Linked DNA regions of Homo sapiens: regions 1 and 2 are each linked to region 3. Evidence: fine-mapped expression QTL. A gene starts in region 3. Each other region holds a variant in brackets. All regions are shown on one strand. Distances are between the middles of the regions. Region 1 has its middle 34 kb from the start of NHLRC1. Region 2 overlaps KIF13A (kinesin family member 13A). Region 3 holds the start of KIF13A (kinesin family member 13A).

Evidence for each region. PIP is the estimated chance that this variant, and not a neighbour inherited with it, causes the effect.
Region 1: its variant is fine-mapped to the expression of KIF13A in thyroid (GTEx, PIP above 0.99).
Region 2: its variant is fine-mapped to the expression of KIF13A in whole blood (TOPMed, PIP above 0.99). The same link has a PIP of 0.9 or more in blood mononuclear cells.

The regions. Positions count from the first base shown.
Region 1 is chr6:18,086,256-18,090,494 of GRCh38, reverse strand. No RefSeq gene overlaps it. Among named protein-coding and RNA genes, the nearest start is that of NHLRC1, 34 kb to the left of the region's middle. RefSeq lists an enhancer at 640-1,357. The variant C/A (reference allele first, on the strand shown) is at 1,763.
Region 2 is chr6:17,952,008-17,956,246 of GRCh38, reverse strand. All of the region lies in intron 2 of KIF13A (kinesin family member 13A), which reads left to right. It also overlaps the pseudogene RPS12P12. Among named protein-coding and RNA genes, the nearest start is that of KIF13A, 34 kb to the left of the region's middle. The variant C/T (reference allele first, on the strand shown) is at 2,014.
Region 3 is chr6:17,985,016-17,989,254 of GRCh38, reverse strand. It overlaps KIF13A (kinesin family member 13A), which reads left to right and starts at 1,620. Exons shown (of 39, transcript NM_022113.6): 1 at 1,620-1,846; 2 at 2,111-2,201. The coding sequence starts at 1,792. RefSeq lists silencers at 1,045-1,544, 1,915-2,034.

The sequences.
Region 1 (4,239 bases), 100 kb before region 3:
GCAAAATTCTGTCCCCTGACACATATGCAGTAAGGGGAACAAAACAATATGGAGTAACTCAAGCTAAGGGCCCATGTGTACATTAGGAGGACTGGCTGGAGCTACCAGAAATTCATGCCTTATGCAAATGAGACACCCAGCCCTCATCAGTTTCTTATAAAAGCTTTAACATTCAACTGTAAAAACACCAACCCTCTTTCAGGTCCCCTCTCCATGGCAGAGAGTTTTCTTCTTTTGCTCATTAAACTCATGCTCCAACTTCACCCTTGGTGTCTGCGCTCCTTAATTTTCTTGGTCGTGGTGTATCCGGAATTTATTCCTTGCAGTGGGTTCTTGGTCTCACCAGCTTCAAGAATGAAGCCGTGGACCTTCGCAGAGAGTGTTACAGCTCTTAAAGATGGTGTGTCCAGAGTTTCTTCCTTCCAGTGGGTTGGTGGTCTCGCTGACTTCAAGAATGAAGCCGTGGACCTTCGCGGCAAGTGTTAACAGCTCTTAAAGGTAGTGCAGACCCAAAGAGTGAGCAGCAGCAAGATTTATTGTGAAGAGCAGAAAAACAAAGCTTCCACAGCATAGAAGGGTACCCGAGTAGGTTGCCGTGGCTGGCTGGAGTGGCCAGCTTTTAGTCCCTTATTTGGTCCCACCCATGTCCTGCTTATTGGTCCATTTTACAGAGTGCTGATTGGTCCATTTTACAGAGTGCAGACTGGTCCATTTTACAGAGTGCTGATTGGTGCGTTTACAATCCTTTAGCTACACACAGAGCACTGACTGGTGTGTTTTTACAGAGTGCTGATTGGTGCGTTTACAATCCTTTAGCTAGACACAGAGCACTGATTGGTGTGTTTTTACAGAGTGCTGATTGGTGCATTTACAATCCTTTAGCTAGACAGAAAAGTTCTCCAAGTCCCCACTCGACCCAGGAAATCTAGCTGGCTTCACCTCTCAGTGGGACAAAGAACTTTGGGTATACCTCAGACAATGAGAGTCTGATACACTGTGATGCTCTGGTGAGACTGGAACAGTGCATATGAGAATAGGCAGCTGGATCTAGACATCCACTCAGTGTGTGCCTTCTCGTGAGTTATTTAAGTCTCCTAAGCCTCACTTTCCTTGTCTGTAGTGTGGAAGCATTAATACCTATTTTTAATTACTGAGAGAATGCTTGTGGCAGATGACTGGCACATATTAATCACTCAATAAATAGTAATTATTATTTTTATAACTACCCACACTCATTTTCATTAAACATACATTACATAACAAAGGTCGAGTGTGAATAAAATGGGATTCATTTATCACAACAATTGATTTACTGCATAGAACAAACACTGGAATCCCAGAGTCAGAAGGGTGAACAGCCATGAGGACCACAGGGCAGGGCACCAAAATCACCTGCTACAGCCACCACTGCAGGGTACACAGAGAGATCTAAAAACTGGTATTAGTCCACCCCCCGGGTACAAAAGAGTTATGGTAGAAGAGGCTGGGGGAAGTGACATACCTTGGAGAAATTTTCAATGTATAGTAAATTTCCAATACCCTCTCCAGAGGAGAAGGCAAAGAGGGTTTTCTTCTTTATCTGAAGCTGAGTAGAATTGGCAGTCAAGAGGAGCACTCAAATAACTCGACAACCTTCCCTGGAGTTAGAGATCACGGGGAATGGTTTCAGAAATACACCTGAGAACACTAAAGGCTGTAGTCACTGATGCTGACAGAAGCAGGAGGAGGGCATTGCACGGGGAGTGAAGTGCACTTCCAACCA[C/A]TCCAGAGCATTCCTAGGAACAAACTAAAGTGTCCTGTAGCAAAACAAGCTGCAGGAAATGAACAATTATTATAGAAGCATGACCAATATACCTTAGCATGCTGAGGCTCTGATAAGTCCTGCAGGAAAGACAACTGTTTAGTTTTATTTAACAGCATTTTTCAAACTTAATTTTTTTTTTCTTTTAAAGAGACAAGGTCTAACTATGTTGCCCAGGCTGGTCTTGAACTCCTTAGCTCAACTGATCCTCCCATGTTGCCTTCCTAAAGTGCTAGGATTACAGGCATGAACCATCACTCCCAGCCCACATTGTTCAAACTTTTAAACCATGGAACCCTGTTTTCCTTGGTAATGCCTATTCATAATCTGTGGGTGTCATGCTTTGTGGAAACACTTTTGAAAACACTGATGTGGGCTTTAGACTTAAAAGGCTCTGGACAACCTGGAAAGAGGCCCAGCTCACCTGAAAACTGGAATCCTTCTCATTACTCAAGGAGATAAACTATTGTTCCCACTGTTCTCTGGTGGGCCTGAACCTTGGGGTCAGTATCATTTCTAGTCAAGGGAAACATTTCCAAAGCTCTTCACTGGGAAAACCCTTATCTTTAGTGATCGCTATCCTCTGTGGCTAGAGGCGGGTTCCTGGCAGGAGGACCTCTCCCTTTCTTCTTTCCATAAATGCTTACAATCATTTCATTGAATGAGCTGGACTTAGCTGGGCTTATAAGCATAAAATAACTTTATTTTTTTTCTTCCATGGCCTCTTCAAATCACTCCATGGTCTAATTCTTCCTTGCCCCAGGATAGGATCATGAGCACATTCCATGGCTTTTCCAGTCATCCCTGGAAAATAAATGAAAAGCCCCTTGTTTGGGTATTAACAAATAAAGTCTGTTTCATAATCATATAATTCCAATCCAGTCCAGGATAAAAATCAGAACTCCAATTAACTCCAAATCTTTATCCAATTAAGATTTCTTCCCTTCTCCACTTTGGACCTGGCCACACTGGCAGGCAGAATTGAGAGTATCATCAGTTTCTTTTCTCTTTTCCCAATCCTCTTGCTTCCCACTTTATAGCTGCTGTTTGTAACCCCTGCAGGGTTGGGTCCTGGGAAGAGGGGATTCAGGGAAAGGGCACAGCTTGACTCAGCTGGATGGCTGGGGTCCTGCTGCTTGTACCCTCCGGATGGCAGATGCCTGCTCTCTTGGTGAGCTTTCTCAGGCTTTCCAGAGAGTTGCCCACTTACTCTTTGATGGAGAAATTATGCCTTTCCTGATTTCTCTTGACCCCTTGGCTTCCTGTGTCCACCCGTCTGCCTGGGCGGCACTGTCCCTCGAGGCAGGTGTCTTGGGAAAAGTCATGTTTAAGCAAATTCCAGGCCAGCTGCCTTCATATCCAGGTCCTAGTAAAATGCAGTGGAAATGCAACGGGCCTTTGAGGCATTCTGTCTTCACTGCGAGGCAGAAGCAGTCCCAGCCACCTCTCACTTGGCAAGAGTGGGACACCAGTCCCCACAAGTGGTTCTCTAGAAACTTCCTTTGAAGTGCATCCTTTTCCCACCTGTGGGAGTGGGATACCCAGCACACTGAAAATTCTCACAAAGATCCTCCCTCTACTACTGATTATCAAAATTCCATCTTGAAAAAGTAGGTGTCTGTGATAGGCTAATGTAGGCATGACTGGTTTCTGATTCTCTCTCACTCTCTCTCTCTTTCTTTCTTTTTTCATTTTGAGATAGGGTCTCGCTCTTTCACTCAGGCTGGAGTGCAGTGGTGTGATATTGGCTCACTGCAGCCTCAACCTCCTAGACTCAGGTAATCCTCCTGCCTCAGTCTCCCATGTAGCTGGGACCACAGGCGCATGCCACCACACTCAGCTAATTTTTGTTTATTTTTTGTAGAGACAGGGTCTCACCATGTTTTCCAGGCTGGTCTCGAACTCCTGGGCTCAAGGGATCCACCCACTTTGGGCTCTCAAAGGGTTGGGATTACAGGTGTGAACCACTGCGCCCAGCCAATTTTTTTTAATAAAAAAATTTTTTTGATGCTAGGTCTTGCTCTGTTGCTTTGTCTGCTGGAGTGCAGTGGTATGATCTTGGCTCACTGCAGCCTCAACCCCCTGACCCTTGCCTCCAACACTGGGCTTAAGTCATTCTCCTACCTCAGCCTCCCAAGTAGCTGGAACCACAGCACGCACCATCATGCCTAGTTAATTGTTTTATTATTTGTAAAGATGGTGTTTCACTATGTTGCCCAGGCTGGACTTGAACTCCTGAGCTCATGCTATCCTCCCACCTCAGCCTCTTAAAGTGCTGGTATTACAGCCATGAGTCACCATACCGGTCTTTTTTTTTTTCCTCTTAACGTGCCCTGCATGGCTAGACCAGCATCTGCCTGTATCATCTGAGAGATACTTGGTACTACTGCATTGTTCTCAGCTTTAGGGAGCTTGCTTGAAATCAAGCCATAGAGAAT
Region 2 (4,239 bases), 33 kb after region 3:
CTAGCCTTTTCACTTATTACTGTGTGATCCTGGATGAGTTACCTGTCCTCTCCATGCCTCAACTTCCTCATTTGTAAATGAGGATGATAATACCTGCATCTTACGGATGTAAGGTTAAATGAGCTACCACTTGATGAGTCCTTAGAACGGAGCCTGGCACTGTGAACCTAAGTCCGTTGCTTTGCTTGCTGTTCACACTCAAAATGCTTGACTGTAGATTTAAAGCAATGTTAATAGACTTTTTAAAAATTGTGCTTAAGATCTGGAAAATATGGCAGTCTTTTCAGGAAAACCTGTATACAAGAATAACAGTCACTATTAGTGTCATCATCTTTAAATATAAAAGACAGTGGTTGATGGGATGCATAAATTTGCATGTATTTAGGCAAAAATGTAGATGTGTGAACACAAATTGGCATGAATTACCTGTAGAGGTTAATGCATGGAAACAAACTACACTGAATTGGTGCAGCCTTATCCTGAGACTCTGAAAGGAGTCACAGAAAATAGGAAATTGCCATCTTATAGACTTAGCATACAGTTTCTTTGCTTTAGTAAACCATGACTTTGTCTTCAATATTATCTCATCCAAACAACCAAATCATTAAGATTAGTTGCACTGCTGTTCTTAAATAAGACAAATTTAAACCCAGAAATGGCTACTTTTTGTATTACATCCAATATAGTGAATGCACATTGTCTTATGGGCACAAGAAAATCACTTCTTCAAATATATTTGTGGAAATTATAGGGAAGATTTTACTTATTGTATAGGTAATTTGTTTGGTCAGATATCCAAATTGGTGTGAAGTGGCAAAAGTCTACATGAAGCTTTGCCCTATCAGTTACTCAAGGGAGCACTTCACAAATGAAAGAAGGCAGAGTGGGTGTTGAATTGGTAGAATAGAGTTTGTTATTGTTATTGTTATATTTAAATCAAAACAGGTAGAAACCCAGGTTCTTGGTTCTAGTCCTGGCTTCGCTACTAATAGAAGGATCTGGAGTAACTTTAACACCTGTGGAAACTAGTGTCCGTTTGTACATCAAGGAGATTAGACCAGATCAATTCTCATATTCAGTGATTCTGAATGTAAAGACATGTATAGTAATACTTGTAGGCCAGGTGCCGTGGCTCACATCTGTAATCTCAGCACTTTGGGAGGTGGCGGCAGGAGGATCGCTTGAGCCCATGAATTCAAGACCAACCTGGGCACCAGCATTTTTTGTAGAGAGATATTCCATCTCTACAAAAAAAGTTTTTTTAAATGAGCCTGGTGTGGTGGCACACACCTGTAATGCCAGTGCTTTAGGAGGCCAAGGTGGAAGGGTTACTTGAGGCCAGGAGTTTGAGACCAGCTTGGACAACATAGCAAGACCCCGTCTCTTAAAAAAATTTTTTTTCTTAATTAGCCAGGTGTGATGCTGTGTGCCTGTGGTCCCAGCTACTCAGGAGGCTAAGGAGGGAGGATCCCTTGAGCCTATGAGTTTGAGGCTACAGTGAGCTATGGTCGCAACACTGCACTCCAGCCTGGTCAAGAAGAGTGAGATCCTGTCTCTAACAACAATATAAACAATAACAAAAAATCCTTGTAAAAATGCATGTAATAGACAATTTAGTTTTGGGTTGTGAAAATGTCTTATAAAGGAAGATATAATATTGAAAAGAATGTAAAATCAGGTTATTAATATGAAAACTAAGAAAAATTTTTCCAGAGAAGCCTAATATTATATTTTAAATTATGCTGTGTATTATACTTAAAATGTAACACTGGTAGCTTATTTAGTCAGCTGTTATTTATTGAGCAGCTAGTCTAAGGGATGAGGGGATTTGTGAAAACCTTCAATCACCTACTCCCTAAAAGGGGGAAGATGTGGTCCTTGAGCTATATGAGTTTATTAGATGTTAGAAAAATGCTGATCTGATTTTTTTTTTTTTTTTTTTTGAGATGGAGTCTCGCTCTGTTGCCCAGGCTGGAGTGCAGTGGTGCCACCTTGGCTCATTGCAAGCAAGCC[C/T]GCCTCCCAGGTTCACGCCATTCTCCTGCCTCAGCCTTCGGAGTAGCTGGGACTACAGGTGCCCGCCACCACACCTGGCTAATTTTTTTGGTATTTTTAGCAGGGACAGGGTTTCACCGTGATAGCCAGGATGGTCTCCATCTCCTGACCTCGTGATCTGCCTGCCTCGGCCTCCCAAAGTGCTGGGATTACAGGTGTGAGCCACCGCACCCAACCGATCGGATTGTTTTAAATCTGTTTCGAAGAAAAAAAAATTTTTTTTGAGGAATGTGAGCAAAATTTTTTATTTGTTCATTTCTTGCATTTGAAGTACTCTTCAGTGACATCCTTGACCTGAGATTCTTTGCCATAGTCCTACAGCACAACTGCACAATTGCAACCAGCCACTTTACAGAGTTTTTCCTTTGTCAGTTTTACAGAAGCCTACCTATTCCCCTAGTCTCCTGTCGTCATCAGCCTTAATTAGGTTGATTTGGTATTCAGCGCAAAGGGCCTGCACCAACTTGATATACACAGGCTCATCGTAGTTGGGTGCAAACACACAAAGATGGGCTCGGTGCTTGTCTAAAGTTGCCAGCTTTGTGAATTCCACGTGCTAGGCCATCCTCATGTAAAGCAGTATTAACATCCATGACACCAGCAGCAGCAGTGCCTTCTTCGGCCATGCCGGTGGTTTACTGGTGATAGGGAATCTTCAGCGCACCCAAGCCTCTGCCTCTGAACTTGGTGGAGGCAGAGAAAGAACCCAAGGAATTTCTGTAATTTCCATTACATGACATCTGGGGCTTTAAAGATTTTTTTTTTCCCCTGCTTTTCTTCCTGGTTAAGAGAGGAGAAATAATAAAAAATCTCCTTTCTTCCCTTTTACTGTCTAAGAGTAATCATTCCTAAAAGTTTGGAGTGTATTCTTTGAGAAAGAGAGAATATGGGTGTGTGTTCAGGTACCCGTGTATATGTATGTATGCATATGTTTTGCATAAATAATATCATCTATATGAACTGTTCTCTAACCTGCTTTTTTAACTTAACAGAATAATGCCTTCCTTTCCATGTTAATAGATGGGTGTCTACCTCGTTCTTTTTAATTGCTATATTATATTATATGGATGAATGATAATTTCTTTGCTTAATCCCCTAATGATGGACATTTAGAGTGTTTCCAATTTTTCACTGTAAACAGTGCTCCAGAAAGCATCATTAATATATTCCTGTTATACCCCTGTTAACCATCTCTCCCCTCCGGTCCTCTCTTCTTCTCCTCTTCCTCTCTTCCCCTCTTCGCTTCGCTTCTCTTTTTTTTTTTTTGGAGACAGTCTTGCTCTGTCGCCCAGGCTGGAGTGCAGTGGCGCTATCTCGGCTCACTGCAAGCTCTGCCTCCCGGGTTCGCGCCACTCTCCTGCCTCAGCCTCCTGAGTAGCTGGGGCTACAGGCGCCCACCACCACACCTGGCTAATTTTTTGTATTTTTAGTAGAGACAGTGTTTCACCGTGTTAGCCAGGATGGTCTCAATCTCCTGACCTCGTGATCTGCCTGCCTCAGCCTCCCAAAGTGCTGGGATTACAGGCATGAGCCACCACGCCCGGCTTTTCTTTTCTTACAGAGTCTCTCCCTGTCACCCAGACTGGAGTGCAGTGAGTGGTGTGGTCATAGCTCACTGTAGCCTCAAACTCCTGGGCTCAAGGGATCCTCCGACCTCAGCCTCCTGAGTAGCTAAGACCACAGATGCGAGCACACTACTAAGCCTTGCTAATTTTTAAATTTTTTGTAGAGGCAGAATCTTGCCATGTTGCCCAGCCTGGTCTCAAACTCCTGGCCTCAAGCGATCCCCCAACCCCAGCCACCCGCAGTGTTGGGTTTACAGGCATGAGCCACCACACCTGGCCAATTATTTTCTTAATATAAATTATATTTTCTTTTTTTTTTTTTTTTTGAGACGGAGTCTCGCTCTGTCACCCAGGCTGGAGTGCAGTGGCGCTATCTCGGCTCATGGCAAGCTCTGCCTTCCGGGTTCATGCCATCTTCCTGCCTCAGCCTCCCGAGTAGCTGGGACTACAGAAGCCTGCCACCATACCTGGCTAATTTTTTTGTATTTTTAGTAGAGACGGGGTTTCACCATGTTAACCAGCATGGTCTCCATCTCCTGACCTCATGATCTGCCCACCTCGGCCTCCCAAAGTGCTGAGATTACAGGCGTGAGCCACCACGCCCGGCAAACTATAGTTTCTT
Region 3 (4,239 bases):
GGGGACTGGTTCCAGGAACATCCAAAACCATGCATACTCAAGTCCCACAGTCAGCTCTGCAGAACCCACAAATAGGAAAAGTTGGATCTCTCAGTTTTGAACCTGCCAAATACTGTCTTTTCTTTTTTCTCCCTTTTTTTTTTTGAGACAGGGTCTTGCTTTGTTGCCTAGGCTGGAGTGCAGTGGTGCGAACATGGCTCACTGCAGCCTCAACCTTCCAGGCTCAAGTGATCCTCCCACCTCAGCCTCTCCAGTAACTAAGACTACAGGCACCTGCCACCATGCCCGGCTATTTTTTAAATTTTTATGTTTGGCAAGATGGGGTTTCTTTACATTGCCCAGGCTGGTCTCGAACTCCTGGCCTCAAGTGATCCTCCCGCCTCGGCCTCCCAAAGTGTTGGGATTACAGGCGTAAGGCACTGTGCCAGAGCACGAATACTGTATTTTCAATCAGATTTTGGTTGAAAAAAAGCCACGTGTAAGTGGACTCGTGCAGTTCAAACCCGTGTTGTTCGAGGGTCAAGCGTAGCATCACCTCGGTTGGAGGCGGACGGACCCCTCTCCTAGCACCTGCCGTACACTGTCTAGCATAATAAGTCTCCACGCCCTCTCTTCCACCTTAGCGTGTGCCTCTGCATCATGCTATTCATGTTTCTGTGTGTCCTCAACAGCACCCTGCACACAGTAAAACCTCAATGCATCTTCCAATAAGTGGATTTCTAGATTTAAGCAAAATCGAAAGATTCCTGGATCTAAACTCTGGATTTTTGACTTCTGTACGCTTCAAAATGCCTGGCACTCGGTGAGCGCCCCTTAAGCACTTGTTGAACCAAACAGAATAAATCGGATTCGCCCAGTTCCGCCCTGGCAGCGAGGTCTGCATTTGGCAGGATGACAGAATCCATTGCTATTAAATTCTTATGTAAGAGTTAATGGCCCTCCCAGCCCACTTGACATCCCTCCCGAGACAAGAGAGGCCGGGAAAGGAAGGGAGAGCACTATTTACAAACATACACTGTTTCGGTGGTGGATTCACAGATTCATTTCTAGTCTCGGTTCACCACAGAGATCTTAAAATACCGCTGCAGGCTCCGTGTGGGACAGAGGGGGCGGCGTGCCGGGACTCGGAGGGGAAGGCCTGCGCACCCAGCGCGGCGAGCCGTGGTCCTTGCTGCCGTCCCGGGGCTCCGGGTGGCAGCGGCCCCAGAAGGCGGCTCGAGCTCACGGCGGTGTCCGGGGGGGGGCCCCGCGGGCGCCGGTGCAGGCTTGGCCTGGGAGGTCCCCTGGGGAAACAATGCGTCCCGCCCCGGACTCCAGCCTCCCCTAAGCGCCGCGCTGCTCGCCGCTCCTCTCACTGCCGTCCCGCCGCTCCAGGGGGCGCCGCGCGTGGCCGTGTCCGGCCTCTCCCGAGCCCCGGCGGGTGACGGGCGCGGAACATGGCGGCGCGGGGCCCCGGGCAGCCGCGAGGGGCCGCGGCGCTGCGGTCTCGGCTGGGGCGGCGCGGCTAGAGCTGCGCCTGGGCCCGCCGGCGAGGCCTCCTCCCCGCCCGCCGCCGCCGCCGCCGCCGCCGCGCCCCGCCCCGCGCGCCCGCCCCTCCCCGGGCCGCGGCCGTGCCCCGCGTCGCGCTCCCCCGGGATGGCCCGCGCGCCTCGGCGCTGCCTCTCGGAGCTCACGGCGGAGCGGCGGCGGCCGCGCTCGAGGGGCGCGCGGCTGCAGCGGCGGCGGCGCCGCGCGTGAGGGGCCGCCTAAGGCCGAGCGGGCGCGGCGAGCGGCCGGGCGAGCGCAGCCAACATGTCGGATACCAAGGTAAAAGTTGCCGTCCGGGTCCGGCCCATGAACCGACGAGGTGAGGAGCTTTCCGCTCTTTTTTATTTCTGCTCGGGCTGAGGGCGGGGGCAACTTTAGAAACTGCGGGGCCGGGACGGCGAGAGCGCGGCCGGGGCCGGGGGGCCGGGGCGGAGGCGGCGTCCGCGCTGGCCGTGGTGCCCGGGGCGCCGTCTCCAGGCTCGGCCGCCTCCAGGGACGGAGCCCCGCTCGGCGCGGCTGGCGGGCGGGCGGGCTGGAGGCGCGGATGCTGGACTTTGCAACGTCCCTTTCTCTCTGCTTTCAGAACTGGAACTGAACACCAAGTGCGTGGTGGAGATGGAAGGGAATCAAACGGTCCTGCACCCTCCTCCTTCTAACACCAAACAGGGAGAAAGGTAAAGCGGGTTCCGAGAGGGCGGCTGGGAGGATCCAGCCTCGCGGGGTCCCGCAAGTTTGAGCCAGGAAAATGGGAGTGCTCTTTCCTATTGTTAGGAGGACGGCTTCAAGTTTGTCGCCGGCTCCTGTTTGAAGCTGTTGCAAGTCCAAGTTCCTCTCCTCCCTCGCCCCCCTTCTCCTCCATCTAGAGCGGCGGCAGGCAGGGCACCCTGGCCACAGCACCAGTCAGCTGAGCCCGGGCGGGCTGCGAGGCACCCGGGAGGGAGAGGGCCGGATGGGACCCCATAGGTGATTCGTCCAGCGGCCACATTTTACAGACAGGAAAACTGAGGCCCGAGGCGGGCAGGTGACCAGCCCACGACCTTATTGTTCGTGGAACCCAGTGTCCGTGATTCTTTTCATCACTGCAGGGTTTGTTTCCTTTGGCAGAATTGTTTAGGGACAGTGTGTCTAAAATGGGAGGAAAAAATAAAGCAAAAGTCTTGTACGATGTAGACTCAGGCTGGACTAGTTAGTATCTATTTTAGTTGTTGTTGCTGAGTTGAGATAATGCCTCAATGTAATGCGCGAATTTTGATTTTCAAAGAAACAAAAGTAGGGCCCTGAACTGTATAGACACTGAGGGATGTTTAAAAAGGGGCTGTATTTACTAGATGGCAACATATTTGCATTTGAAAAGTGGTAACTGTTGGATCCTTATTAATTCCGTTCTGTTCCATGCAACAGTATGGGTTAACGCCCCAAAATAATTTGAATATTTGGCATTTTTCTAGTAAGCCTCTGAGAAGAAATCGGTTGGAATTCATTCAATATAATAATGCAGTAGCTTGTAAATATATATATGTGAAAAAACGGGAGAGTTTACAATATTAATTTTCATTGGAAATGAATATGAGTTTGTGTTTCCACGAATCACCTGTTGATCGATGGAATACAATTTAGTGAATTTCCTTCTTCAGAGATTTTCACTGAAGAGAGACTCTGAAGCAGGGTTTGTGACATTATTGCTTAGAGAAGCAATGCCTCCATTCTATAATGTGTGGTGTTCAAGCTCAGTTTTGCCAAATTTGGGGAAAGAAATCATGAGGCGATAAGATTGGGGATTCTTTGCTTTTCGTGTTGAGCATAGCAGTTTTTATCCAGTTTGCAAACATTCTGCTACCTTTAGCAGATTCTGGTGGTGATATTAAATAGCTAAGCTATATGTAAAATGTTGTGTTTAACACTGAATGTAGTGTTTATTGTACATTGTACTGAATGTTGTCTAGTAATGGATGTATTTTTAGATGCATTTATAGCAGTGTAGATAGTATAGCATATTTCATGGTGATAGTAAGTAAACTCATTGAGTACATTAAATATTTACAGATTAAATTAGATGCCCATATCACCAACGAATGTCCCCTCCCCCCACCCCCCCGCAAACTGCATATTGTTTCGGGAAAAAATTCTGTTGGGTCAGATTCTTGAAAGCAGTCTGGGGGAACAGGTAGAATACTTTTTAGCTCCTGTTGTGTAGCCGTTACTTGTTTTCCTTGCTGGCTTGGCACCTGCTCCTTGTCACTCTTAACCATAAGCAGTGCGACTGTTAGCTACTGTTTAATGACATGAAGTGTTGTCATTTGTGAAGAGAAACAGATTTGATTTTGTGGGATTTGGTACAATCTATAACTGTGGACAGTTGGTTCCAAATGCTAAGTAATCAGTTGATCATTTTTCGGGCTGAACCACGTTAGTTACTAATCAGGATCTTTTAGGTAAAGATTTGAAGGGTGATTTTGGGATCTATTCATCTGCTTACTTACGATAGTCCCTTATCTGGAGTTATAAAAATAGCATTGAAATATGGGTACTCTCGTGTTTTGTCCTTCTGACGGATCTAATTCTTTGAATAGCAGATGAGCTTTCTGTGGGATTCTGTCTTGAGTACCGGTCATTTCATTTACAGACAAACTGAGTAGTCAACAAAACAGTGCTCCTTGTACATTAGGATTACTGTCTTTGCACAGATGAAGACACCAAATGCATTTTTATTTT